3 separate regions of the Homo sapiens genome follow, and regions 2 and 3 are each linked to region 1. The links come from fine-mapping of genetic effects on gene expression. A gene starts in region 1. Each other region holds a variant in brackets. All regions are shown on one strand. Distances are from middle to middle.

Region 1 (7,804 bases):
GCTCGGAGGAAGTCAGTGACTGAGGTACGGTGATAGAGAGTGAGGTCACCCTCAGCATAGCCTTCAGCCTTAGGAAGGAAAAGAGAGAAGCTTGGTCAGGCCCTTCTAAGGTACCTGTAGGACCCACCAGGCCCAACCTCCCTAGAGTTCCAGGACCCAAGAGTGACCCCATTCCCCAAAACACACCTTTGGCTTCTTCTTAGTAACCAATTCAGTAACGGTCTTAGCCTGAACTTCAACCTCCTTAAAGGCAAATTTGGGGTCAAAGAATTTACTGTCAACCTTGTCAGGGGCCAGGAATCCTAAAAATGACAGGATATATTAAAAAGTGTGCTTTGGGAGTTGGGAGCCTGGATCAAGAGAAAGGAAATGATGCCCACCTTGGCAGACTACAAAGATCTCTGCAGATTCATGGCGAGAGGCTTGGGGCTTGGTGGCCTGGACACGGCGGAACAGCTGCTGAAAGATCCATAGCAGAGGCTGATAGTCACGAGAACGGAAAACCTTTGTGATGAAGCTGCCACCACGGGCCAAAAAGTCACAAGCCAAACGTAGAGCCATCAGTGTCAAATGGGCTGTAGGATAGAGACAATTAGTTGACGCACTCTGCAGCCCAGGAGGGCATGCGCCCACCTCCACCATCACCTGATCTCCAAGCACCACACTCCCTGTACCTTGTGAGTAAGCATCATGGACCCAGCTAGCCCCAACGTTGGGGGCCCCATCATTGAGCACAACATCAACCTTCCAGGTCTTCAGCTCCTTCCTCAGGGCCTAAAGAGAAGAAAAGGAACTATGGAAACAGAAACACTGGAATGGCCCTGGTTCAGCCATTTGTCCATCTAGTCATTTGCTGAGTGCCCATCATGGGCCAAATGCAGTACCAGGCACAGGAGATACAATAGTAAACAAAAACAGTATGTCTCTACCTTCATGGAGATTACAGTCTGACACTGAATTCACAGGAGAAGACTTCACTAAAGATCTCTGCCCTTCTCCCAATTCCAAACACCTTTATCCCTGACTCTAAATAAAGCCTGGAGTGGACACTACGAATGCCATAGGTCTTGTCGTACAGATGTCAGGCAAGAACGTGCTCAAAGCACGGTAAAAAGGAAAAACTTGCCTTTAGAGGATTTCAGGGATGTAGATGTTTCCGTATAAAGGGGGAAGGAAGAGAGAGACTCCTATTACCTGCCTACAACGTTCTGTTGTGATGTCCTGCTGGAGAGTCACCACATTGGGGAGAGGCTTGATTGGAACCAGGTCCACTCCTGGAAGAAATCAGGTCAGAGTATTCTAAAAGGTTGCTTCAAGCAGGGAGGAGAGAAATACAGGACAAAATACCTTATACACCCACCCCTTAAAACACCAAGGAGAGCTGTCCGTTACTCACCCACAATAAGGCTGGATACAGGCATAAACTTGGCAGCTACCTGCAGCCTATAAAAGGAACAGAAATTTAAAAACCTAGAGCCATCCTTTTCCCCCTCTTGGCAACTGATCTCTCATCCCTGGTGTTACGTGTACTGGCCAAAGCATATCATAGGCACGTATTCCAAGCCCTTTCTCTGCAATCAAGAAAGGAAACGGCCCCCAAGAGGACCGGGATTCGGGTTCCCCTCCCGCAGTGAAACTGGAAGCCATCCCAGCTCAGAACCCAGAAAGCGGCCACCAGGAGCAACCTGTGGCGAGTGTTACGAACCATCCCCCTGGCGCAGCACACAGGTCCAGCAAGGCTCGGGCTTTCTGCAGGAACTGAAAGCGGCGATTGAGCTGGATCAGCTTGAAAGCAGATCGGGAACGGTAACCTGGACAAAACAACCAAGTGCGCAAACTGCTTCACTAGTAGGATTTCTCCGGCCTCGCAACCGACCACCCCTTCTGCAGGAGAGGTACATAATGGTCGCAAAGAGCAGGCGAACCGGGCAGAGATCGCTCGCTCGCTCGCAGACTGAGCGAATCCGGACTCACCCGTCTCCTTCGCCAAGTGATAAAACTTGTCTCGTCGGCTCTTGCCAACTTTGCCCTTCTTGCCCATGGTGGAAAGGGGGAGTATCCCTCAATCTGGGGAGAAAGTAGAAGTTGGGAACGTCTCTTTCCGGAGCACCAGATTCCACTTCCAGTTTCCCACTTCCAGTTTCCCACTTCCCGCAGCAATTCCACCCCGCGCCCCTCTCCGCACACTACCTAGACCCAGAGCCGCTTTCTCCACACTTGGAACCGCACAAGTATGCAGCTAACTACTTCCGCTTCCGCTTGCGTCCCCTGCGTCCCTGGCTCGAGGTTTTCCGCCATTTTGAGTGTGGCCCTAGATTGTTCTCAATACTCTGTCCTTGGGTTTTGTAAGTTGAAAGTTGAGACTAGGAAGGCATATCACAAGAACTATAAACAGAGTTTCAATGAGGCAACACTGAGGAGGAGTTCTACTCCTTCCTCATCCCCTTCCAAAGCCCCTGAACTCGAGTAGCCGCCCCTCCCATCATGGTTCCCTTAGTGTGGTCTCGCCGCACACCCCGCCCATTGACCCGGAATTCTTCTCTGCCTGGTCTTCAGGTCCCAATCCTCCGCTTCCGCGCTTGCGCGCCAAGACGGCTCGGATGCCGGCGGTCTCTGCTGAAGAGAGAAGATGGCGCTTGACGGACCAGAGCAGGTATGGCGGGTGCAGTGGCGGCCCGGCAGGTTACGGGGCTGGGTGCGGAGCGAGCGTGATCTGAGTGGAGAGCGGGCCGGGGCAGGAGCGTCGGGTGGGTCGGAGGTGCCTGGACCAGTCCATGCTGGACGCTGCCTGCGACCGGATCTGCTGTGTCAGCGCCGCCCTCGGTGAGTCAGGGCAAGGCTGGGAGAGGAAGACGCGGTAGAAGCGGAGTGAGTGAGGGAAGCGATGGGCGCGGGAATGGCCGGCCCACGGGTCGCAGGAGACGGGACGCCAGTCCTTTGGCTCCGTTCCGCTGGCTCCTTCGTCAGTACTGACACCTCGGGCTTGTAGAGCACTTCACGCAGTGCAAAGCGCCCCCCGTCTATATCATATCGCCTCTCGGTCCTCCTAAAAGTCGTATGAGGTAGGCGGCGTTCCCATTCTTTTATTTTAGTCCTGGGAAAATGGAGGGTTCCAAGGGAGGGAGGGATTAGAACCCAGATCCTGAGCCTCCGAAGTCCAAACTTTTTCTACTACGCAAAGCTACCTGGTGTCAAGCCTTATTCAAAGTGCCCTGCAAGTGGCTTTACCCCCTCGGATGTTTAACCTGTCGTTTAAGACTCACTCTGTGTCTTCAGATGGAGCTGGAGGAGGGGAAGGCAGGCAGCGGACTCCGCCAATATTATCTGTCCAAGATTGAAGAACTCCAGGTGAGGACGGACTCCAGAGGGAGCTAGGAAGGGTGATGATGGGGGATGGAAACGGACTTCCACAAATCCATCTAATTCCTTTGGGAGTGCAGTGGAAGAAGCTGCTGCTTCTCCTTTCTTGTTTGTTTCTTAGCTAGTAGGGTGTATGTATCAGAAGTAAGCAATCTCTTGTTCTCCTCCAGTCCCATCTCTTTGAGGGTCTTAGTGTTCACAGTTTGTTACACATCTTCGAGTCAAATCTTAATAGTAAAGGTACCTCTAGCCAAAGGTCAACCCTTTTGGAAGAAGCCCGAATGAAAAGGATTCTTATAAAAGGGAAACATAAGCTCAGGAGTTGAAATTTATCACCAAGAGGTTGGGTGAGGGTGAAGTGAGAATGTGAGGAAGGGCATCATTGAGGGATCTGGACAATGCTAATTCCATAGAGACTGAATGAAAGAAATTGGGCAACCCAGAGCCCTAGCCTAAAGCGCTAAACCATAGAAAAAGGACCGTTTATGTTGTTAATCAAATGTTTGTGTTACCAGTAAGGCTTCCAGCAGTAAGGTATGGCTTCCAGTAGTAAGCCTTACAGACAACATAAACAGTAGTCTGTTAGTGTTACGTTATACTGTTACGGTAGGCTGTTAGTAGTTTAACTTTGGACAGGTCCATGGATTTTCAATTTCACCCTAACCCCCTGCGTTGTTCAAGTGTCAACTGTAATATAAATTGGATGGGGGAAAGCCACAAAAGACAATTCTGAATTCCAAGTGCATTTGCAGGTATTATGTTTAGTTTACCATTTTTGAATGCTTTTTCATGTGTTTTTATTCGTTCACCTTAGTAGTCTTGAAGCAGGGTAGCTGATGCTATACCCATGTGCCGTTTGGTAACAGATCTAGATTTTTAAAAATAGATTGTCTTACCTTTACTTTGCTTTTGATTGACAGCGGCTGGGCTAGAACTCAGGTTTCTCACCTAACAATCTTTCCACCAGGTGTTGTTGCCTTCCTGCAAGAAATTTGGTGTTACATGAGCCAGCTGTAACTTTTCTCCATTAGATTCTGTTACTCCTGGACCAGTATTGGACAAGCAGCCTTCTTTGATGGCTGCTGTAAGGTCCAGAGGGACTCTTGAAGGACAGGGCAGGGTCATTAGGATCATACTGGAGAATCTGAAACAACATGCAGGTGCCCTGTGCCCTTCCCTCAGCTCATTCAGACCTGTGAGGTCTTGGCCAAGATCCTACCTCCTCCTGTCTCCTGCCCTTGAATAATGGAATTTGTCTCTTGTCTGCCACAGCTGATTGTGAATGATAAGAGCCAAAACCTCCGGAGGCTGCAGGCACAGAGGAACGAACTAAATGCTAAAGGTGAGTGGAGAAAGATGGGAAGCCGCATGTGGGCAGTTTGTCTGAGGTCTGTCCTTATCTCCCTGCACTGTGTCTTCACAGCAGTGCTTACTGTTTTCTCCCTGTCATCATCTAGTAGTTTCACATGCATCTCTTTTTCCTGAGCCCTATTGTAGCCTCCTTAAATACATGAATTTTGACCTTTGGCCTTCCTTTAATAAGAGTGATGCTTAGCTCATGCACGTAGAATTGGGTCCTGGAGACTCCAAAGGAGTAGCTAGGTGACCACTGTGTCTGTTTGCCATCTAGTTCGCCTATTGCGGGAGGAGCTACAGCTGCTGCAGGAGCAGGGCTCCTATGTGGGGGAAGTAGTCCGGGCCATGGATAAGAAGAAAGTGTTGGTCAAGGTAAAAGCAGCATGACCCCAGGGACCAGCTCGGTCTCCACTGCATTCCCACCCCTTTGTGTGTAGCCTCGGGAGACAGGGTTCTGTGTTCTGTCAAGGTATTGTGGGATTCTCATAGGTCTTCCTGGGTAGGATTAGTGATTTGGTGGCTGTCAAGGAAGGTCATGAGCCCTTGTTTCTTTAGGTACATCCTGAAGGTAAATTTGTTGTAGACGTGGACAAAAACATTGACATCAATGATGTGAGTGTAGCAGGTGAGGTGGTGGTGGTGGTGGGGTCAGCTCTTACTGTACCACTTCTGAAACTCGCCCCCTTCACCCAGGTGACACCCAATTGCCGGGTGGCTCTAAGGAATGACAGCTACACTCTGCACAAGATCCTGCCCAACAAGGTAGACCCATTAGTGTCACTGATGATGGTGGAGAAAGTACCAGATTCAACTTATGAGATGATTGGTGGACTGGACAAACAGATCAAGGAGATCAAAGAAGTGATCGAGCTGCCTGTTAAGCATCCTGAGCTCTTCGAAGCACTGGGCATTGCTCAGCCCAAGGTGAGGAGCAGGGCTTCTCTGAGAGGGCCAAGCTGTACTTACTCCTCCTGCCCCAGCCAGCCCTACTGCAGGGGTTGGGGAGGCACCGGGATAGGCTGCATCTTGCTTGGGCTGGCCCTCCCCCTGAAAAGAGTGGCTGGGGAAGTGTTCCTAGGGCGGTGAGGTGGTTTGGATAGAAGGGACCTTGATGTTCCTTTTTTTTTTTTGTATCCCTAACATCTAGCAAGGGACCCAGCACTCGGTAAATGTTCACTGAATGAAATGAGGGGTGTAGCTTTCTGCCCTGAGTCCTGCTGTTCCCCTGTAGGGAGTGCTGCTGTATGGACCTCCAGGCACTGGGAAGACACTGTTGGCCCGGGCTGTGGCTCATCATACGGACTGTACCTTTATTCGTGTCTCTGGCTCTGAACTGGTACAGAAATTCATAGGGGAAGGTAACCATGGCTAGCAATGTGAGAAGCAAGAGGTAGGGGTAGGGGGTTAGAGAGCTAATAAGCTAATAAGCTCCCTAACACCAGCTCGGCCTCCACACAGGGGCAAGAATGGTGAGGGAGCTGTTTGTCATGGCACGGGAACATGCTCCATCTATCATCTTCATGGACGAAATCGACTCCATCGGCTCCTCGCGGCTGGAGGGGGGTTCTGGAGGGGACAGTGAAGTGCAGCGCACGATGCTGGAGTTGCTCAACCAGCTCGACGGCTTTGAGGCCACCAAGAACATCAAGGTAAGGTGGTAGCATCCTTGGGATGGGCCCAGGGAAGGCCTGGGTGCCACGCAGGCTGAGGAAGAGGTTTAGCTGATCCCCACTTGCTTTCTCTGCTCAGGTTATCATGGCTACTAATAGGATTGATATCCTGGACTCGGCACTGCTTCGCCCAGGGCGCATTGACAGAAAAATTGAATTCCCACCCCCCAATGAGGAGGTTTGTGATGGACACTGTGCAAAGTGGCTCTGGCTGTGGGGGTGGGGTGTGGGGCTCAGGCTTTTCCTTGCCATCTCCAGGCCCGGCTGGACATTTTGAAGATTCATTCTCGGAAGATGAACCTGACCCGGGGGATCAACCTGAGAAAAATTGCTGAGCTCATGCCAGGAGCATCAGGGGCTGAAGTGAAGGTAATTGGAGTACCCACTGAAAACAGGGCAGAGGCAGGAAGCTCTGGGCTCAAGGGCCACAGATGAGGGGCACAGCAGTGGGGCCTCAATTTCCTTTTCCTGTTCAGGGCGTGTGCACAGAAGCTGGCATGTATGCCCTGCGAGAACGGCGAGTCCATGTCACTCAGGAGGACTTTGAGATGGCAGTAGCCAAGGTATAGGCCTCCATCTTTGTGCCTTTGCCAGTGGTGGCTCTGGGGCAGTGGGCTAGGGCATGTGTGTGTTCGTAACTTAATGTTCATTCTCTCTCCCACCCCTAGGTCATGCAGAAGGACAGTGAGAAAAACATGTCCATCAAGAAATTATGGAAGTGAGTGGACAGCCTTTGTGTGTATCTCTCCAATAAAGCTCTGTGGGCCAAGTCCTCTAGGACTCCAGTCTGTTAATGAGGGCTGTGCTGTTCAAGGACCAGGTCCAGGCACCACCAATAGACAAAAGGATTTATTTGGAAATTTCCAAACCTGCCAGATGTGGCACTCGCCAAGCCCTAGGCCCACCCTCCTCACCAAGCTCCAAAGGGCAACACCAGTCCTCCCAGCCTCCCCATTCACCTTACCCTGGCCTCCACATGCACATACCCCATACCTCAGGCCATGCTAGAGAACTGGAGTGTCCCCTCCCCGGCCCAAGCCGCTGGAGAGGCAGCCCTCTGGCATCCCAGGAGATGATGGCGGCCAGAGCCGCTTGCATAGATTGAGGAAAGAAAAGAAGGAGGCACCTAACAGGCTCCCTGAAAACCCCCAACTTACCCCTGTACAAAAAAAGTGGCTCCCACATAGAAAACTTGCTCCCAAAATAGTGCAAATACCCAAAGGAAAGGAAAAAACCAGCAGCAAGGCTGGGCTTGTAGGAATGGCAAAGAACTTTGGTTTAGAAAGGCTAGGAAGAGTCTGGGCTGCACCTCCTCTTCCTAGCCCAGCTCCCCAGAGCCAGCTCTGACCCTCGCCCCAGGGGGAGTCTGTAAACATGCAAACCCAGCAGCCTTTGGTTCGGAAATGTCTTACAATGTC
Region 2 (10,910 bases), 170 kb before region 1:
TTAGCCGGGCGTGGTGGCCGGCGTCTGTAGTCCCAGCTACTCGGGAGGCTAAGGCAGGAGAATCGCTTGAACCTGGGAGGTGGAAGTTGCAGTGAGCCGAGTTCGAGCCACTGCACTCCAGCCTGGGGGACAGAGCGAGACTCCATCACACACACACAGAAAAAAGAATTACAGTCTCAATGGGTTTCCTAGTGGAGATGAAACTAATTTGGTTAGCAGTATAATTTCCAAAAATGAAAGGTGGTGATGGACAAAGGAAAAAAACAGGAAGGAATTACCTTCTTGAGATGTTAGGCTTTGCGTGAAGGATAGATTATGGTTTATATTAATAGTCTATCAATGTTGCCCTGTAGAACTTTCTGCTATAATGGAAATGTTCTATATCTGTGCTGTCCAGTACACATATGGCTGCTGTACATGTGGCTAATGAGCACTTGAAATGTGGTTGGTGAGACAGAGGAACCTTTTTCTTTTAAGACAGGGTCTCTGGGCCAGGTACAGAGGCTCACGCCTGTAATCCCAGCACTTTGGGAGGCTGAGGCAGGAAGATTACCTGAGGTCAGGAGTTCCAGACCAGCCTGGCCAACATGGTGAAACCCTGTCTCTACTAAAAATATAAAAATTAGCTGGGTGTGGTGGTGCACACCTGTAGTCCCAGCTACTCGGGAGGCTGAGGCAGGAGAATGGCATGAACCTGGGAGGTGGAGCTTGCAGTGAGCCGAGATCGTGCCACTTCAGCCTAGGCGACAGAGCGAGACTCCATCTCAAAAAAAAAAAAAAAAAGTAGACAGGATCTCTGTTGCTCAGGCTGGAGTACAGTGGTGTGATCGTGGAGCCTCCACCTCCCAGGCTCAAGCAGTCCTCCTGCCTCAACCTCCCAGGTGCCTGGGACAACAGGCACACTGCCATAGCCAGGTAATTTTTGTAGAGACAGGGTTTGCCATTTTGCCCAGGCTGGTTTCAAACTCCTGGACTCAAGCTATCCACCTGCCTTGGCCTTCCAGAGTTCTGGGATTATAGGTGTGAGCCACTGTACCTGTTCAGGAACCAATTTTCAGTTTAATCAATTTAAATTTAAATAGTCATATGTGGCTAATGGCTGCCATATTGAATAGTGCAGATGCAGTTCTAGATGATGAAGGCTTTTATGCTTCTCACTGATTTGAGCCAACCTGTTACAGAAGAACATTAAAGAAATTATCTGGTCAGATTTTATTAAAACCCAATGGTTTAGATCCCTCTCTCTTGTGGCTTATTGCTTCTTCCTCTGGTTACACCACTTCCCACTCTGGGGGAGCAGGGAAGATGAGAAAGAACCACACACTTCTTCCTCTCAGCATGGAAGAGGACAAGAACTGCGCAGGCCCATGGCTGAATACTGCTTGCTCCAACACACACTAGTCTGATTTTATCCTGCTTAGGTGTACTAAGAGATGAAGGTTGTTTTAATAGGCATTTCTCCAGTCACATTGGGCATCTTTTCATGTGTTTTATTAGCCACTTACAATTCTTCTGTGAATTGTCTAATCTTTTGCCTTTTCTATTAGATTGTCTTTTATTGATTTTTTACAAGTATTTTCTCAAAGTTTGATATTTGTTTAACTTTGTTGATGGCTTATTTTGCAATCAGAAGTTTATTTATTTATTTTTTTGAGACAGAGTCTCTTGCTCTGTTGCCCAGGCTGGAGTGCAGTGGTGTGATCTCAGCTCACTGCAACCTCTGCCTCCTGGGTTCAAGTGATTCTCCTGCTTCAGCCTCCCAAGTAGCTGGGATTGCAGGGCATGTGCCACCACACCCAGGTAATTTTTAAATTTTTAGTAGAGATGGGGTTTTCCCATGTTGGCCAGGCTAGTCTTGAACTCCGGACCTCAGGTGATCCACCCACCGCAGCCTCCCAAAGCGCTGGGATTACAGGCATGAGCCATCTTGCCTGGCTTGTCTTCTGTATTTTATGTTATGGTTAGGAAGACCTTCTCTCTCTCTGTCTCTTATAGAGAGAGAGAGAGAGAGAGAGAGAGAGAGAGAGAGAGTTTTTTTTTTTTTTAGACAGGGTCTCATTCTGTTGCCTAGGCTGGAGTATAGTGGCATGATCACAGCTCACTACAGCCCTGATCTCCTGGGCTCAAGTGATCCTCCCACCTCAGCCTCCCAAGTAGCTTAGACTATAAGCATGTACTATCACACCTGGCTAATTTTTTAAAAAAATGTTTAGTAGGCAGGAGGGCTCACTATCTTGCCCAGGCTGATCTTGAGCTCCTAGCCTCAAGCGAGCCTCCTACCTTGGCCTCCCAAAGTGCTTGGCCCCCAAGATTTTTTTTTAATTCTGTATTTTCTTATATAAATTTGAGAGTATGTGTGTGTATGAGTTTCTTTCTTATATTCTTTTCTTCAGTTATCTCTGATTATTTTTAGTCATTTCTGTTCTAGAGTATTGGGTTGAACCCATATAAAATTGCCACTTTTATATATCAAAAATGGTCGGCCATCAGTAGTCTCATATAGTTCAACCTAATACATTCATTCAAACTTTTTATTGGCCAAGCATGGTGGCTTACACCTATAATACCAGCACTTTGGAAGGCCGACGTGGGAGGATTGCCAGAGTTCAGAGGTTTGAGATCAGCCTGGGCAACTTATTGAGGCCCATCCCTACAAAAAATAAAAAATTAGTCGGTGCATGCCAGTAGTCCCAGCTACTTGGGAAGCTGAGGCAGGAGGATTGCGTGAGCCCCAGAGGTTGAAGCTGCAGTGAGCCGTTATCATTGCCACTGCACTCCAGCCTAGGTGACAGAACGAGACTCTGTTTTGAAACAAACAAACAAAAAAACCCCACAACTTTTTATTATGGAAATTTCAAGCACACACAAAAGTAGACAGAGTATTAAACTGAACTCCCATGGACCTGTCACCCAGCTTCAACATTACTAACATTTTCCCAGTCTTGTTTTATCAATTCCCACTTTTAAATTTTGCTGAAGTATTTAATAACAAATCAGATTTTACACCTCTTTGGATGACTCCTTACTCTACCTTATATTTGTAGAAATTGTTCTTTGAACTGACCTAATGAGTCTCTCCAGAAAATCTTCAATGTCAATACTAGTTACATGCACAGATATGTCACTGGTTAAGAAAACTGATCAGGCATATCACTAACTCAAGGGGGAATTCCTGTGACTCTGTAGTAGAAAATCTTAATTCTGAGGAAAATCAGTATGGAGATTCTTATGGCATCTCAAAGATGAACGATGGAAAAGACCTTTCAAGTCCTAGAGTTGAGTCCCTTAGGAGTTGAGGCCATGTTTTCAGGACTGCTACTCCAGTCTGTACGTTTTCTACCTTATTTCCTAAATAATTTTTTTCTTTCAACTTTTATTTAAGTTCTGGGGTACATGTGTAGGATGTGCAGGTTTGTTACATAGTTAAACATGTGCCATGGTGGTTTGCTGCACAGATTAATCCATCACCTATATATTAAGCCCAGTATGCATTAGCTATTCTTCCTGATACTCTCTCTTCCCCAAGTCCCAACAGCCCCAGTGTGTATTGTTCCCCCTCCATGTGTCTGTGTGTTCTCATCGTTGGAACATAGTTTTTAAATCTAGTGGCCTCTTCTGTCATTGGCAGAAGAGTCTAAGCTGAAGTGGTAGATGAATGGTTGGGATTGAGCAATAGTTGTGGGTACTGTTGTCAAACCTGATAGATGCTCAGAGGGTGAAAGGTAACGGTAGAGAAGAGGAAAAAAGGAAACAATCGGGAAAAGGCAAATTGAGTGAAAGAAAACAGAATCCTATGTTGAGAAGAAAGGAAGAATATACTCAGACCATTGCTTTTTAAACCCTACGTTTTAAGTATACAATTAACCAACCTTTCTTTCTGTTTCTTTTCAGAATTATAGCGTTCAGCCGGCCTGTGAAATATGAAGATGTGGAGCACAAGGTGACAACAGTATTTGGACAACCTCTTGATCTACATTACATGAACAATGAGGTGAGAAGGCAGATGGATGGGGCAGGGACAAGAGGGGCAGATGCCTACCTTTTTTCTCTCTGTTTACCAGAGCCTTTAAAGTTTGTTCCTCTAATATCATCTGCAGGTTTTCATTTTCTAGACCCCCTTTTCTTAATTCCAACAACTGTGGGATCTCTGTTTTTTACTACATGGGAGATTACTCAGCCATCTCAGCCATCTCCATTCCCCCTACTCATTCAGTGCAGATAGCTCTAATATTCCATGGTGGAATCAGGTATGGTACCAGGGCTAGGGCTTATACTGTCTCCTTTACATTTTGTAGGAGTATCTTATTTTTTTCCCCCCAGCACAGCCTTAACAAGAAGCAGAGGGTTTAGCAGGGGCTAGGGAGGTGTGAAAAACCAGTGAGTAGGTCATCTATTACAGTCATAAATGCAGGATTCTTCTCTTAGAGTTTCTTCTGATTGGAGCTTATTTGTTTCAAATGTTAGCACCTGCTCCAATAAGTTCTTTAACTCCTCCTCCTCCTCACTCCACCCCAACGGTCCTTATTTACTTCTACTTTGAATATCACCCAGGAAGGAATTCTTTTGAATGTCAGTTTCTGGGCTGCTTTCCCAGCTCCAAGAAGAATATTACAGACTACAATCAGCTTAGGCTGGTGCTTTGCAGTGTATTTATGCTGAGTAAAGAATGTGTACCTCGAGGAAATTGAGTTAGGGGTGCAAGACAAGAAAGCTGGGCAACATCATGACCCTTTGAGAACCAGATCATCACTGTGTAGTTTTATTTTATTTGATGAGGAGTTAAAATTTTTCTTTTAGTAAAGACTTTTCTGAATCATTTAGTACTCTTTTCTTTTTCAGTTAATATTTCCATTAAGAATTCCTGATGTTTCTTTATTCTAAAGCCAAATATAAATCATTGTTATTATTTTAGTTCATACATGTCTTAACATACTCTACTAATGTTAATGATCAGGAGTTGACTAACTTACATTTGATTAATTTAAAATCCCTCAATTCCGTTCTTTTGTTTGCCCTTTAAACCCTGCACTGTCAAGATCTAAGAATCCCAAATGAAAAATCTACTGAGATTTTATTTATTTATCTCTTTGTAATTATAGTTTTATTGAGATTAAAAAATTTATCATCTAAAAGTATACCATTCAGTGGTTTTTAGTATGCTGATAGAGTTGTGCAACCAACACCGCTATCTAATTCCAGAACATTTTCTTTTTTTTTCTGAGACAGAGTCTTGCTCTGTCGCCCATGCTGGAGTGCAGTGGTGCAAACACGGCTCACTGCAGCCTTGACCTCCTGCGCTCAAGCGATTCCCCCACCTCAGCCACCCAAGTAGCTGGGACTACAGGCACACACCATCACACCCAGCTAATTTTTTTGTATTTTTTATGGAGGCAGGGTTTCACCATGTTGCCCAGGCTGGTCTCAAATTCCTGAGCTCAAGCGATCTGCCTGCCTCAGCCTCCCAAAGTGCTGGGATTACAGGCATGAGCCACCGCACTTGGCCTCCAGAACATTTTTATCACTCCAAAGAGAAACCTGTACCTATTAGCAGTTATTCCCCTTTCTCTCCTCTTCTCAGCTCTTGGTAAGCACTTATCTTTCTGTCTCTTTGGATTTACCTATTCTGAACATTTCGTGTAGTGCAATCATACAGTACGTGACCTTTTTTGTCTGGCTTCTTTGACTAAGCGTATGTTTTCAACGGTCATCTGTGCATGTTGTCAGTATGTCATTCTATTTTATGGCTGAATAATAAATATTCCATTTATGGATATACCACATTTTGTGTATCTGTTCATCTATTGATAGACATTTGGGTTGTTTTCATTTTTTGGTGATTAAATAGTGCTGCTATGAGCATTTGTTTACAAGTGTTTAAATGAACATATGTTTTCAATTCTGTAAGGTATATACCTAGGCGTGGAATTGCTGGGTCATAAGATAACTCTAACTTTTTGAGGAACTGCCCAGATTTTCTATAATGGTTGCACAATTTTACAGTCCCACTAGCAACTTATGAGTGTATTAGTCTATTCTCACTCTGCTGTAAAAAACTGCCCGAGACTGGGTAATTTATAAAAGAAATAGGTGGCTAGGTGCAGTGACTCACGCCTGTTAATCCCAGCACTTTGGGAGGCTGAGGCGGGCAGATCACGAGGTCAGGAGTTCGAGACCAGCCTGGCCAACATGGTGAAACGCCGTCTCTGCTGCTGATATAAAAATTAGCTGGGCATGGTGGTGCACACCTGTAGTCCCAGCTACTCAGGAGCCTGAGGCAGAAGAATTACTTGAACCCGAGAGGCGGAGGTTGCAATGAGCCGAGATTGCAGCTCATTTGAGACAGAGTTGAGACTCTGTCTCAAAAAACGAT[TA/T]AAAAAAATTATTTTATTTTATTTTTAAATAAACAAATAAAGGAAAGAGGTTTAATTGACTCACAGTTCAGCATGGCTGGGGAGGCCTAGCAAACTTAACAATCATGATGGAAGGGAAAGCAAACACATCCTTCACATGGCGACAGGAGAGAGAAGGGCCAAGCAAATGAGAAAAAGCCTCCTATAAAACCATCAGATCTCGTGAGAACTCACTCACTATCAGGAGAACAGCAGCATGGGATAACCACCCCCGTGATTCAGTTACCTCCCACTGGGTCCCTGCCACAACACATGGGGATTATTGGAACTACAAATCAATATGGGATTTGGATGGGGACACAGCCAAACCATATCAGTGAGGGCTGCAGTTTCTCCACCATCCTTACCAACATTTGTTATTTTCTTCTTTTAATAGCCATCCTAGTAGGTGTAAAGTGATATGTCACTGTGAGTTTTGTTTTTGTTTTTGGTTTGAGACAGGGTTTCACTTTGTTGCGCAGGCCAGAGTGCAGTGTGCAATCATGGCTCACTGCAGCCTTGACATCCTGGGTTCAAGTGATCCCCCCACCTCAGTTTCCCCAGTAACTGGGACAATAAGCACATGCCACCACACTGAGCTAATTAAAAATAAATTTTTGTAGAGATGGGGGTCTCACTATTTTGCCCAGGCTGGTCTTAAACTCCTGGCCTCAAGTGAGCCTCCCGCCACAGCCTCCTAGGATTACAGGTGTGAGCCACTATCCCCAGCCTACTTGGTTTTTTTTATTTAACTCCCTTCCCAACCATTCTTATTTATTCCCACTTTGAATGTCACACAGGAAGAAATTCTTTTGCAATATAATATGATTTGCAGAACATTCTCCCATTCCATAAGTAGTTTTGAGATTTTATTTTAAATATGTACTGTTTTTGGCGAGGCGCGATGGTTCATGCCTGTAATGCCAGCACTTTGGGAGGCTGAGGCAGGCAGATCTCTTGAGCTCAGGAGTTCAAGACCAGCCTGGACAACATGGTGAAACCCCATCTCTACAAAAAGTACAAAAATTAGTCGGGTGTGGTGCCTCATGCCTGTAATCCCAGCTACTTGAGAGGCTGAGGCAGGAGGATCACTTTAGCCCAGGAGGCGGAGGTTGCTGTGAGCCGAGATTGTGCCACTGCACTCCAGCCTGGGCAACAGAGGGAGATGCTGTCTCAAAAAAAAAAATCTTGTATTATAAATTGGGAACTGTGTAAGTTAATTGGACTTTTGCTTGATTTTGTGTTTACCATACGTGTATAAAATCTGACCAGGCGTGGTGGCTCACTCCTGTAATCCCACCAGTTTGGTAGGCTGAGGTGGGCAGATTACTTGAGGTCAGGAGTTCAAGACCAACCTGACCAATATGGCAAAACCCAGTCTCTACTAAAAAAAAAAAAAAATTAGTGGGGAGTGGTGGTGTGCACCTGTAATCCCGGCTACTCTGGAGGCTAAGGCAGGAGAATCACTTGAACCCAGGAGGTGGACATTGCAGCAAGTTGTGATTGTGCCACTGCACTCCAGCCTGGGCGACAGAGTAAGACTCTGTCTCCAAAAAATAAGAAGAATAAGAATAAGATCTGACATTTGCTAGGTCCTAAGCAAGGCATACGTTTGCATCTTATGAATCTCTTAATACCAAGTATTCATAACATGCTCTGCTTTTTGCAGTGAGTGAGACTTATTTGTACCCTCAGGGACCTTCTATTTAATATTTCACTGGAACGTATGAGTGTATTAGTCTGTTCTCACGCTGCTGTAAAAAACTGCCCAAGACTGGGTAATTTATAAAGGAAAGAGGTTTAATTGACTCACAGTTCAGCATGGCTGGGGAGGCCTCAGGAAACTTACAATCATGACGGAAGGGAAAGCAAACACATCCTTCATATGGCGACAGGAGAGAGAAGTGCCAAGCAAAGGGGGAAAAGCTCCGTGAGAATGGAGGAGGTAGTTTTCAGGTTCTAGTCACTGACTTTGCCCTTAAACAGAAAGATAATTAAACCGTGCTATGCAGTCTAAATTTGTGTTTTTATTTGTATAACAATTTTCATCCTCTGACCATCCCTCCACCCCTTCTCTTCCTTTTCTGCTTGTTCTATTAATGTCAGCACAATTGGCAGTAGAGTGGGACATGATCCTACTTAATTTGGAAAAGAATATGGGGGCTGTAACTGTTTGCAACTTGATATTTTGAAGTAAATTAGTGTTTTTGGAGAGGCAGCTCTTCTCAGAAAGTATCTCACAACTGGGTACTGAGGTATGCTACAGCATGGATGAACTAAAAAACATTAAGTGAAAGAAGCTAGATGAAAAAGATTGAATCTTTATGAATTGAATTGAATATGTATGAATTGTATGAGTCTAAATGGAATGAAATGTCCAGAAAAGGCAAATCAATAGAGATAGAAAGTAGAGTAGTGGTTGCCTGGGGCTGGAGGTGGGAAGGAGGAGTGACTATAAATGGGCACAAGAGATCCTGTTGGAGTTCTGGAAATGTTTTAAAATTGGATTATGATGATGGTTGCACAACTATGTAAAGGTACTACAAATTTTTGGATTGTACATTTAGAGAAAAAAATCTGTATGGTTTCAACTAGATCTCTTAAGACCCCATAGTATCCAGTGAGATTGTTTTCCTCCAAATGTATTTTTATTTTTTGTTTATTTTATTTCTGCAAAGTGAAACATTGAGATAAACTTCTGTTTTATATTATTTTCCTTTTCTATGTCTTGTATCACAGCTCTCCATCCTGCTGAAAAACCAAGATGATCTTGATAAAGCAATTGACATTTTAGATAGAAGCTCAAGCATGAAAAGCCTTAGGATATTGCTGTTGTCCCAGGACAGAAACCATGTAAGTAGCCCTTGTCATGGTCTGGCAGCTGAAGACAAAGCTTGCTTTCCTTCAGGAACTTGTCTCGCCTCCTTGACAGACATTTTCGTTCCTCAGCCACTGCCAAATTGAGAGCATAAGCACAGCACAGCCCACTTGTCAGTGGCCAGTGAACATTCTGCATTTGATTTCACCGAAAAGCCAGATTGTCAGTGTTAACATTGCATCTAAAGGTTATTTGACTTTTGGTGAGGGAGGAAGGAAAATACTTTATGATAAAGAATAAAATTCTTGTGCTCTAAATTTATGTTTTTTCAATTAGATTTTGACCCCAACAAGAGAAATTTGATTCGTTTGGCAGTGCCGATTAGGAAAGACTGTCAAAGATTTGAGACTGTCATGCTTTATAAACCCAACTCCCACAACACCTTGCCTTTCCCTTGGAACACTTGTAGGAAACAAACTTTTCCTTTTGTTCAGTGGAAAAAGCCATGGGTTGGGGGCCTCTTATAACTTATCAGCTGTTGCTTTACCCAATGGCAGGCAGTCTGTAGGGTGTCAGAAGTGGGGAATTATCCCTTATGCACAGTTTCCTCTCCTGAAGGATTCCTGGAGGCCCGCATTTCACAAGAATGCTTGCAATCTGTATCTGTCTTCCAATTACTGATTCTTCTACCAGTTTTCTTCAGATGCATGTTTCTGAAGGTTTCTTGGCACCATTTCCTTTTCTTATGCTTGACAGGCTTTCCTTTTCTTTATGTGGACAGCCAACATGGCAGCATAAGTGTGGGTGTAGTGACTAGGACAAAGTTTAGGTGGAATGCTGCTCATGCTGACCATTTCTTTTCTTTTTTTTTTTTTTTTTGAGACAGAGTTTTGCTCTTGTTGCCCAGGCTGGAATGCAATGGTGTGATCTTAGCTCACTGCAGCCTCCGCCTCCTGGCTTCAAATGATTCTCCTGCTTCAGCCTCTCGAGTAGCTGGGATTATAGGTGCCCGCCACCATGCCTGGCTAATTTTTGTATTTTTTAGTAGAGACAAGGTTTCACCATGTTCGTCAGGCTGGTCTCAAATTCCTGACCTCAGGTGATCCACCCGCCTCGGACTCCCAAAGTGTTGGGATTACAGGCGTGAGCCACTGTGCCCGGCCATTTTTTAATTTTTTTAGTAGAGATGGGGTCTCACTGTGTTGCCCAGGCTGGTCTTGAATTCCTGAGCTCAAATGATCCACCCACTTTAGCCTTGCAAAGTGCTGGGATTACAAGTGTGAGCCACTACACCCAGCCTGTGGTGAACATTTTTCTATGTTGTAATTATAATTTGTAAGGATACATGTTTCTCTTGAGTCGATATACCATAATTTAATTAAATAACCATTTTTGCTACTGTTGGGACACAGAAACTGCTCCTGTTTTTTGCATTTATAAATATTTACATTTAAGAGTAACAATGGTAATGTTTGGTGATGAAATCTTTCCTCCAGAACTTCCTCACCTAGACTTTAGGCTTCTTAATAAATGGAAGAATTATGATCCAAAATTGCTCTGTGCTCAGGAATCCTCACCTCTAGAACAGTGTTCCTCTAACTATATGTGATGAAATATCAGTTTTGTTCTTTTGATTTCAAATCTGTCATGGACTTTTTTTTTTTTTTTTTTTTTTTTGGAGATGGAGTCTCACTCTGTCGCCC
Region 3 (9,426 bases), 370 kb before region 1:
TGAAACCCCGTCTCAACAAAAAATACAAAAATTAGCCGGGCTTGGTGGTGCGCACCTGTAGTCCCAGCTACTAGGGAGGATGAGGCAGGAGAATCACTTGAACCCAGGAGGCAGAGGTTGCAGTGAGCTGAGATTGCACCACAGCACTCCAGCCTGGACGACAGAGCAAGACTCTGTCAAAACAAAACAAAACAAACACAATAAAAGATTTGGGATTAAAGGATTGGAGGAACATCCTGGCTCCACAGAATGTGACACTTGATACCATCCAGCCAGAGTAGCCCAGGGCTTCACGCAGTCTGTGGGATGGAGAAGGAGGGACAGCTGGTGGCTCCTGGTGGGGACACGTGTCCCGTTTTGCCTCCATTTGTTGGGTGACCTTAGTCCACCTACCAACCACTTTGTGCCTTGGTTTCCTTATCTGAAAAATGGGAATCAAATGGTACCTAACTCACAGGGTTGCTAGGAGGTTTCACTTCTCTGTGTAAAGCACTAAGATGCCTGGCTCAGTAGACACGGCCTCATGTTGCCATTTCACACGCCAGCGCCCACGCAGCACCCAGGCAGCACCAGCTAATGGAGGGCAGTTAACGTTGGTGATGTGGGGGCAGGAGGCACGATCTTGGCAAATACCAGGCCTGGCTTCAAAGGAAGGCCCAGGTTCGGGGCCACCTTCTGGGCTTGGGCTTAGGTGCAATTTTTTTTTTTTTTTTTTGAGATGGAGTCTTGCTCTTTTTCCCCAGGCTCGAGTGCAATGGTGCAATCTTGCTCACTGCAACTTTTGCCTCCCGGGTTCAAGTTATTCTCCTGCCTCAGCCTCCAAGTAGCTGGGATTACAGGCACACACCACCACACCCAGCTAATTTTTGTATTTTTAGTAGAGACGGGGTTTCTCCATGTTGGCCAGGCTGGCCTTGAGCTCCTGACCTCAGGTGATCCGCCTACCTCAGCCTCCCAAAGTACTGGGATTACAGGCGTGAGCCATCATGCCCGGCCTTGGGTGCTATTTTGAACCCCTTTGATGCCCTGTGAGCAGCTCTCACTTGCCACTCACCCAATGCCTGGGGGGCAGGGAGGTCGACGCTTCATGGAGATTTCCATAGGATGGATGCCTGGTCCAGCAGGGTCCCAATGGGCAGGGGCAGAGGCAGGCAGAGGAAAGGGTCACAAATCTCATAGCCCTAGAAGGGAGTGAGAAGAGGAACTGGCGGGCACAGCCACTCACATCATAGCAGAGGACCTGCACCGTCAAAGCCAAACTAGCAGCATGTCCAAGACCCAAATCCTTCATCTGCTTACCCTCCTTCCCACCTCCCCCAAAACTGTTTCTAGCATGTCCCCCTCCCCATAGAAGGCATCATCACCCCCTCCACTCTTCACCCCCCCCCCAAAGCCAGCCAGTCCACAGCTATCCCTTTCGGTCCCACCTGCAGCCAGCCCCTAAACCTACCACTGCCCTCAGTCGTGGGGTCTCTTCCTTCCTGGTGGTGACAGGGCCTTCTGAGTTTGCTAAGCACAGATCTACACTGCATCAAAGAGATCAGAGAGGTGACTGGGAAAGGCAGATTTGGTCATGGTCCTCCCCAGCTAAAAACCTGTTGCCCTCAGGAGGAAGTCTGAGCCCGCCTTAGCTCCATGGCCTCAGCTTCTGCAGTCTCCGTATCATCCACAGCTCACAGCCTCCTGCCGATCAGTCAGCACGTCTTTCCAGACCTTCTGCTTGAAATGCGAGTCTTCTAACAACTTGCCTGCTGAACTCCTACTCCTCCTTTCAGGGCTCAGCTTAAGCATCGCCTGTGGCCAGGGCTCAGGGCCTGCCCTGCACCTTTCATATCGCCTCTCTGGGAGTGGCTTGTTTAAACATCCCGGGAGCCTGGAGAGGTGGTATCACAGGCATTTGAACCAGAGCGACTCCATCTTGAGTGAGGGCTAGGAAAATGAAGTTGGGACTTGCATTCCCAGAAGGCTATTCCCAGCCTCTAGATGTTTACAGTTAAGGAAATGGATTAATAATGTTTACTAACAAACCCAAACTTCGGAGTGTCCAGATATCCCGATATCTCGAGAACAAAGGCATTCCTAATTTTGCTTCAAAGATAATAATATTGATTCTTGCAAAATTTGGTAATTTTAAAAAAGAATCCTTTATCACAAACCCTGTAGCAGAGCACATCTCCCCATGATCTTTTTTTATCCTATATATATACAAGCACTGTACCTAGGGTGGATGCATTCCTCCTCTTACTTTTGGGAATGCCCTATTCTGTCTATGGAGTAGCTGTTCTTTCACCACTTGACTTTCTAAATAAACTTGCTTTTCCTTTGCACCGCAGACTCGCCCTGAATTCTTTCTTGAGCAAGATCCAAGATCCCTCTCTTGGGGTCTGGATCGGGACCCCTTTCCTATAACAGTGCGACCAGGCTGTCCCTGCTCACCAAGGTGTCTGGGCACGGTCGGTGACTGCTCTTTGTAGGTCTCGGTGAAAACCTGCGGAGGAATGAGTGAGTGTAAGAAAGGGAAGGAGACATTTTTAATTAAGACCAGGCAAGATTAGGCAATAGGAGAAAAGACAGATATGAGTCAAAGCTTACTCACATGTTCCTGGCCTGGGAGGCAGAGATAGATTGTCACTGTCCGCAGCCACGGCAGAGCTGGGCTGTATCCTGGGCCTGAAATGAAGAGGTACCTCCCTCTCCTCCCCTGCTTCCTGGGATTCTGGGCCTGACATCCTATAGCAGGGTACACTGGAGACAGGGCCAGATGAGTTGCCACACTGCATTGTCCCTGGCATGTCACCATTTTTTGTAATTTATTGTTTTTTACTGTGGTGAAATACACCTAACAGCCGGGCACAGTGGCTTACACCTGTAATCCCAGCACTTTGGGAGGCTGAGGCAGGCAGATCACTGGAGGTTCGGAGTTCAAGACCAACCTGGTCAACATGGTGAAACCCCATCTCTACTAAAAATACAAAAATTAGCCAGGCATGGTGATGGGCACATGTAATCCCAGCTACTTGGGAGGCTGAGGCACGAGAATCGCTTGAACCCGGGAGGTGGAGGTTGCAATGAGCTGAGATCGCACCACTGCACTCCAGCCTGGTGACAAAGCTAGACTCCATCTCAAAAAAAAAACAAAACAAAACAAAACAACATCTTGCTTAGTAAGTTTGTGCTTGACCGAAAACTGAGGGGAAGAGCTAAAATGAGACGTGAGAGTTAAGATGGGATTGCTGAGTGAGTCAAAAGAAATTAAGATTGAACTTGACAGTCAGCATTTAAAAGAGAGAAGTCAGATGCACATCGACAAACTGGCCATCTTTCATACGGAAAAGATCTGAGGGTTTGCACTGACTCTCAGTTTCTTTTCTCTTTTTTTGAGACGGAGTCTCGCTCTGTCGCCCAGGCTGGAGTGCAGTGGCTCCATCTCCGCTCACTGCAAGCTCCGCCTCCTGGGTTCACGCCATTCTCTTGCCTCAGCCTCTCGAGTAGCTGGGACTAGGACTACAGGCGCCCGCCACTACGCCCGGCTAATTTTTGTATTTTTAGTAGAGACAGGGTTTCACCGTGTTAGCCAGGATGGTCTCGATCTCCTGACCTCGTGATCTGCCAGCCTCGGCCTCCCAAAGTGCTGGGATTACAGGCGTGAGCCACCGCGCCCGGCCTGACTCTCAGTTTCTATATGAGCTGCAGCAGGTGAGGAGGCTGCCAGAACAACCTCAGCCCTCTTCGGCTGCACCAAGGGAAGGAATTGCATTAAGTGGACCAGGGCTCCCTCTGCGCATGTTAGGCCAGCCCACAGGCTTTACTTAAATACAGGCAGCATAGTTTAGGAGAGATGTGGAAAATCTGCAGTCCATCCATGAGAAGATGACAGAGCATCAGGATACAGAGAACTTCTCTCCCCGGGAATCACTGAAGGCACTGTGTTTCTCCTGGAGAAAAGGAGACATGCTTAGACATGGTTGTGGCCGGGTGTGGTGGCTCATGCCTATAATCCCAGCACTTTGGGAGGCCAAGGCGGGCAGATCACCAGGTCAGGAGATCAAGACCATCCTGGCTAACACAGTAAAACCTCATCTCCAGTAAAAATACAAAAAATTAGCCGGGCGTGGTGGCGGGCGCCTGTAGTCCCAGCTACTCTGGAGGCTGAGGCAGGAGAATGGTGTGAACCTGGGAGGCAGAGCTTACAGTGAGCCGAGATTGCGCCACTGCACTCCAGCCCGGGTGACAGAGTGAGACTCCGTCTCAAAAAAAAAAAAAAAAGACATGGGGTTGCTACCTCTCATCTTGGACAGTGGCCATGTCAAAGAGAAAAGACTCATTGTTTCTCTAGAAAGCACAGTGAAAAACAATAAGCCTGGCCTGGGGCGGTGGCTCATGCCTGTAATAATAAGCCTGGCCTGGGGCAGTGGCTCATGCCTGTAATCCCAGCACTTTGGGAGGCCGAGGTGGGTGGATCACCTGAGGTCAGGAGTTCAAGACCAGCCTGGCCAACATAGTGAAACCCCGTCTCTACTAAAAATATAAAAATTAGCCAGGCTTGGTGGCGCATGCCTATAATCCCAGGTACTTGGGAGGCTGAGAC[A/C]GGAGAATTGCTTGAACCCAGGAGGCGGAGGTTGCAGTAAGCTGAGATTGCACCACTGCACTCCAGCCTGGCCGACACAGCGAGACTCTGTCTCAAAAAAAAAAAGAGAAAAAAAAGAAAAAGAAAAACAATAAACCTAAAGAAGAGGCAGGAGACACATTTAGCATAACAAAGCAATTTCTAACAACCACAGTGGCTCAGCCCACAGAAGTAGTGAGCTTCTGTCCTTGAAAACGTTCGGATGTGGACAGGATGATGTCGAGGATACCAGAGACATTACTGGCCAGAGAGCAGCGTTTCCCGATTGTTTTCCCCTTCCAAGCATCCCATTCTTAAAGAATCTCATTTTTTGAAATTTAAAATTAACTTTAAATAAATTTCACTTATTAAAAGTAGTGATTATCCCATTTTATCTTTATTTTATTTTATTTTATTTATTTATTTATTTTTTGAGAGGGAGTCTTGCTCTGTCACCCAGGCTGGAGTGCAGTGGCATGATCTCCGCTTACTGCAACCTCCGTCTCCTGGGTTCAAGTGATTCTCCTGCCTCAGCCTCCCGAGTAGCTGAGATTACAGGAGCCCGCCACCACACCCAGCTAATTTTTGTACTTTTAGTAAAGATGGGGTTTTGCCAAGTTGGCCAGGCTAGTATTGAATTCCTGACCTCAAGTGATCCACTTGCCTCGGCTTCCCAAAGTGCTGGGATTACAGGCATGAGCCATCGCGCCCAGCCTAATTGTCCCATTTGAGTAATGAAAAACCTATATACTATCAATCATCCGATGCTCAGCTTGGGGTTCACTGAATAGAAGAAGTGACTCAGCCTTGGGGGTCTGGAAGAGCTTCTGAGAAGCAGAGGTTGTGCCAGAGTGGGGTTTGAGGAATGACTTGGGGGTTCTACAAGCAGACAAAAGAGGGTCTTTGCAGCAGAGAGACTCAGAGGTGAAAACATCAGCTCTGGAATAAACTACTGAGTATAAAGTGGGACTGAGAGGAGGCTGGAAGCAGCAGGGTGCAGATTAAAAAAGGCTTGTCGGTTTGATGAGGGCCGTGCGGGAGCTTTGCCCAGGAAAACAGCATGAGTGAAGAGGAGCTGGCCAAAAAAGAAAAAAGAGATAGAATCCAACTGCATTCAAAGTAAGACCTCCTGTTTATCAAAAGACACCCCCCCACCACCACCAAAGAAATTCATGCAAGTCACAGACTGGAAATGATATCTGTAACACATTTAAATGACAAAGGATTAATATCAAGAATATATAAAGAACTCTTAAGAATCAGTATGGAAAAGAAAAGAAATGGGCAAAGAACACAAACAGGAATATCACAGAGGAGAAAGCACACATGTCCTGTAAACATATGCAAAGATATTTAACCTCATCAGCAACAAGGTAATGAAAATGTCATGCCCCTCAAATTGGCAAAAATTAAAAAATTGGACAGTAGTAAGTGTTGGTGAAGCTATGGAGCAATGTGGGAACTCTTATCCACTGTTGGTGGGAGTGCAAATCAGTGCAACTATTTTGAAAGCAATTTGACATCTGGATACCCTTGAACTTTTGCATACCTTTGAACACCTGCACAGCCTTGGCCCAGTGACTTTACTCCCAGTGTATTCCCTACAGCAGTACTTCTCTCAAACTGTGGTGGAGGACCTGTCTTGTTTCTGTGTTAATTTCCAGTTTGTTTGGGGAATAATCCTTCTTGTAAAATACAATAAAAATGAACCACTAAAAAATGGAATGAAAAAAAGGCATACAATTTACAAGCCCTGATATCTTGCTATTAGATTCAACAGATATAAAATTGCTTATGTATACCAAGGGGACATGTACAAAATGTTCCTGGCAAATCATTTTGTAATAGCAAAAAACAAAAAGTAACTCAAATGTCCATTGACAGGAGATCAGAGAAATAAATTGTGACATAATCACGTGACAAACTATAGAATTGTGAAAATAAATGAACTACAGCTCTATGCAACGACAAAAAAAGTCTCAGAAACATAATTGAGAGAAAGAAGTTTCTATCGCCCCAAAAATAAACCTCAACCCTATTTTCAGTTACTTCTCCTTCTTCTTACCCCCAGCCCCAGGCAATCACTCATCTACTTCCGTCTCTATAGAGTTGACTTTTCTAGACATTTCCTATACATGGAATCTTACAATATGTAGTCTTTTGGGTCTGGCTTCTTTCACTTAGCACCCTGTTTTGGGGGTTTCACCCTTTGTTGTGGGATATATTAGAGCCTTATTCCTTTGTATTGCCAAATAACCACCTATGTCGATATGCCACATTTTGTTCATCCATTCACCAGCTGATGACATTTGAGTGGCTTCCACTTCTCCGCAAGTTTGAAGGATGCTGCCTTGGGTGTAGGTCTTTGCACTGATGTGTTTTCATTTCCCTTGAATTCAAACGCAGGTGGTATTGTTATTATAAAGCTCTACAACAAGAAAAATTCATTAGTATGATGTTTAGAGATACATATAAAGTACTGAAACTTTTTTTTTTTTTTTTTTTTGAGACGGAGTTTTGCTCTTATTGCCCAGGCTGGAGTGCAATGGTGTGATCTCGGCTCACCGCAGCCTCCGCCTCCCAGGTTTCAAGCGATTCTCCTGCCTCAGCCTCCTGAGTAGCTGGAATTACAGGCATGAACCACCATACCTGGCTAATTTTGTATTTTTAGTAGAGACGGGGTTTCTCCATGTTGGTCAAGCTGGTCTTGAACTCCCGACCTCAGGTGATCCACCTGCCTCGGCCTCCCAAAGTGCTGGGATTACAGGAGTGATCTACCAGGCCTGGCCAGTACTGAAACTTTTTTAAGGGAATAATAACAGCATTCAGGGCCAGACACGATGGCTCACACCTGTAATCTCCGCACTTTGGGAAGCTGAGGTGGTGGATCACCTGAGGTTGGGAGTTTGAAACCAGCCTCACCAACATGGCGAAACCCGGTCTCTACTAAAAAATACAAAAATTAGGCTGGGTGCGGTGGCTCATGCCTGTAATCCCAGCACTTTGGGAGGCTGAGGTGGGCAGATCACAAGGTCAGGAGATTGAGACCATCTGGCTAACACGGTGAAAACCATCTCTACTAAAAACACGAAAAATTAGCCTGGCATGGTGGCGGGCACCTGTACTCCCAGCTACTTGGGAGGCTGAGTCAGGAGAATGGCATGAACCCAGGAGGCAGAGCTTGCAGTGAGCCAAGATCGCGCCACTGCACTCCAGCCTGGGCGACAGAGCGAGACTCCGTCTCAAAAAATGTATAATAATAATAACAATAATACAAAAATTAGCCAGGCATGGTGGCAGGCACCTGTAATTCCAGCTACTCCAGAGGCTGAGGCAGGGAAAATTGCTTGAACCTGGGAGGCAGAGGTTGCAGTGAGTTGAGATCGTGCCACTTCACTCCAGCCTGGGCGACACAGTGAGACTCCATCTCAAAAAACAAAACAAAACCAAAAGAAAAGACACGAAAAAACCAGCATTCAGGGGAGTAGATGAGGAGCATGGGGGTGGGAAGAGAAGGATGAAGCTGGAGGCAAGGGTGATGGCTGGTGGGTTTATGGGTGCTCGCTTCGTATTATGCTCCATAACTTACATATATATTTTATTAGATATCATGTTTATGTATATATGCTACATAATAAGAAGGCAAGGCCGGGTTTGGTGGCTCACACCTGTAATCCCAGCACTTTGGGAGGCCAAGGTGGGTGGATTACTAGAGATCAGGAGTTCAAGACCAGCCTGGCCAACATGGGGAGACCCCCGTCTTGGAGGTGAGAATGGTTTGTTTAGACTCTAGACTAGCACTGTCTAGTGGACCGTTCGGTTATGATGTGTATTAGTCTGTTTTCTCACTGCTATGAAGAACCACCTTAGACAGGGTAATTTATAAAAAGAGGTTTAGACTGGGTGTGGTGGCTCACGCCTGTAATCCCAGCACTTTGGGAGGCCGAGGAGGGCGCATCACCTGAGATGCCAATACAAAAATTAGCCGGGCGTGGTGGTGCACGCCTGTAGTCCCAGCTACTCCGGAGGGTGAGGCACGAGAATCGCCTGAACCCAGGAGGCGGAGGTTGCAGCGAGACGAGATTGCGCCACTGCACTCCAGGCTGGGCGACAGAGCAAGACTCCATCTCAAAATAATAATAATAATAATAAGGCATTTTAAAAAATGAAAGCCTGTCTCCAACGCCCTAACAACCAAGGTTTCTACTGCAGCGACAGTGTGACCACTGCACTAACTCCTACAGGGCTCTCAAAGGCCCAGGCACTGCAACGGGTGCCGGTGCCTGGCCTGAAAATCCCAGTCCCAGAGATCTGCGGGGGTCCTCCATGCTTCCCCGGGGGCCTTGCTTCCCACCGACCACCCTTAGAACAAACAGCCCATCTGTGCACCCTTCTCCCTCCTCTCCCTGACCCCCTCGCCTGGTGTACTCTTCCACGAAGCAGCATCATCCCGGATTCACATTTATTTGTTGTCTGTTGCCACCCAGATGCGTGTGCAGAATATGGCTCTATGGGAGCTGGACCCTGGCTGGGTCATGGCCCAAGCCCCGACGTGCACATGCCTGGCGGCAAGGGGGCTCAGGAAATACTGCAGAGTTAACAGAAGCAGCCGGGGGCCTGTGATGTGGATGGAGAGAACTGGGGCTATCAACCTGAGCTGCTCTCTTGACAGCTGAAAGCATAGGCTATGTTGCTGTTTTTACCCTGGGTAGACACGCCTCTGGTAAATGTATGATTTGTTAGATATTTTGAGGTCTGGAAAACAGTCATCAGACCCTCATAAGCACCTTCAAGGACTCTGATATGGTTTGGCCATGGCC

What was found. PIP is the estimated chance that this variant, and not a neighbour inherited with it, causes the effect.
Region 2: its variant is fine-mapped to the expression of PSMC5 in whole blood (TOPMed, PIP above 0.99).
Region 3: its variant is fine-mapped to the expression of PSMC5 in breast (GTEx, PIP above 0.99).

Annotation. Positions count from the first base shown.
Region 1 is chr17:63,824,862-63,832,665 of GRCh38, forward strand. PSMC5 (proteasome 26S subunit, ATPase 5) reads left to right here and starts at 2,570. Exons shown (of 12, transcript NM_002805.6): 1 at 2,570-2,653; 2 at 3,277-3,348; 3 at 4,633-4,702; 4 at 4,991-5,088; 5 at 5,272-5,328; 6 at 5,410-5,640; 7 at 5,948-6,074; 8 at 6,175-6,365; 9 at 6,466-6,564; 10 at 6,645-6,755; 11 at 6,863-6,949; 12 at 7,055-7,158. The coding sequence starts at 2,630. The coding sequence ends at 7,108. FTSJ3 (FtsJ RNA 2'-O-methyltransferase 3) reads right to left here and starts at 2,802. Exons shown (of 21, transcript NM_017647.4): 1 at 2,191-2,802; 2 at 1,975-2,067; 3 at 1,706-1,811; 4 at 1,397-1,443; 5 at 1,195-1,274; 6 at 675-774; 7 at 381-575; 8 at 187-302; 9 at 1-68. The coding sequence starts at 2,041. It overlaps SMARCD2 (SWI/SNF related BAF chromatin remodeling complex subunit D2), which reads right to left. Exons shown (of 13, transcript NM_001098426.2): 13 at 7,220-7,804. RefSeq lists enhancers at 1,915-3,114, 2,251-2,530, 2,911-2,960.
Region 2 is chr17:63,648,666-63,659,575 of GRCh38, forward strand. It overlaps MAP3K3 (mitogen-activated protein kinase kinase kinase 3), which reads left to right. Exons shown (of 16, transcript NM_002401.5): 4 at 3,892-3,991; 5 at 9,129-9,242. Among named protein-coding and RNA genes, the nearest start is that of MAP3K3, 32 kb to the left of the region's middle. RefSeq lists an enhancer at 6,700-6,749. The variant TA/T (reference allele first, on the strand shown) is at 6,371.
Region 3 is chr17:63,458,376-63,467,801 of GRCh38, forward strand. No RefSeq gene overlaps it. Among named protein-coding and RNA genes, the nearest start is that of ACE, 14 kb to the right of the region's middle. RefSeq lists an enhancer at 2,467-2,536. The variant A/C (reference allele first, on the strand shown) is at 4,589.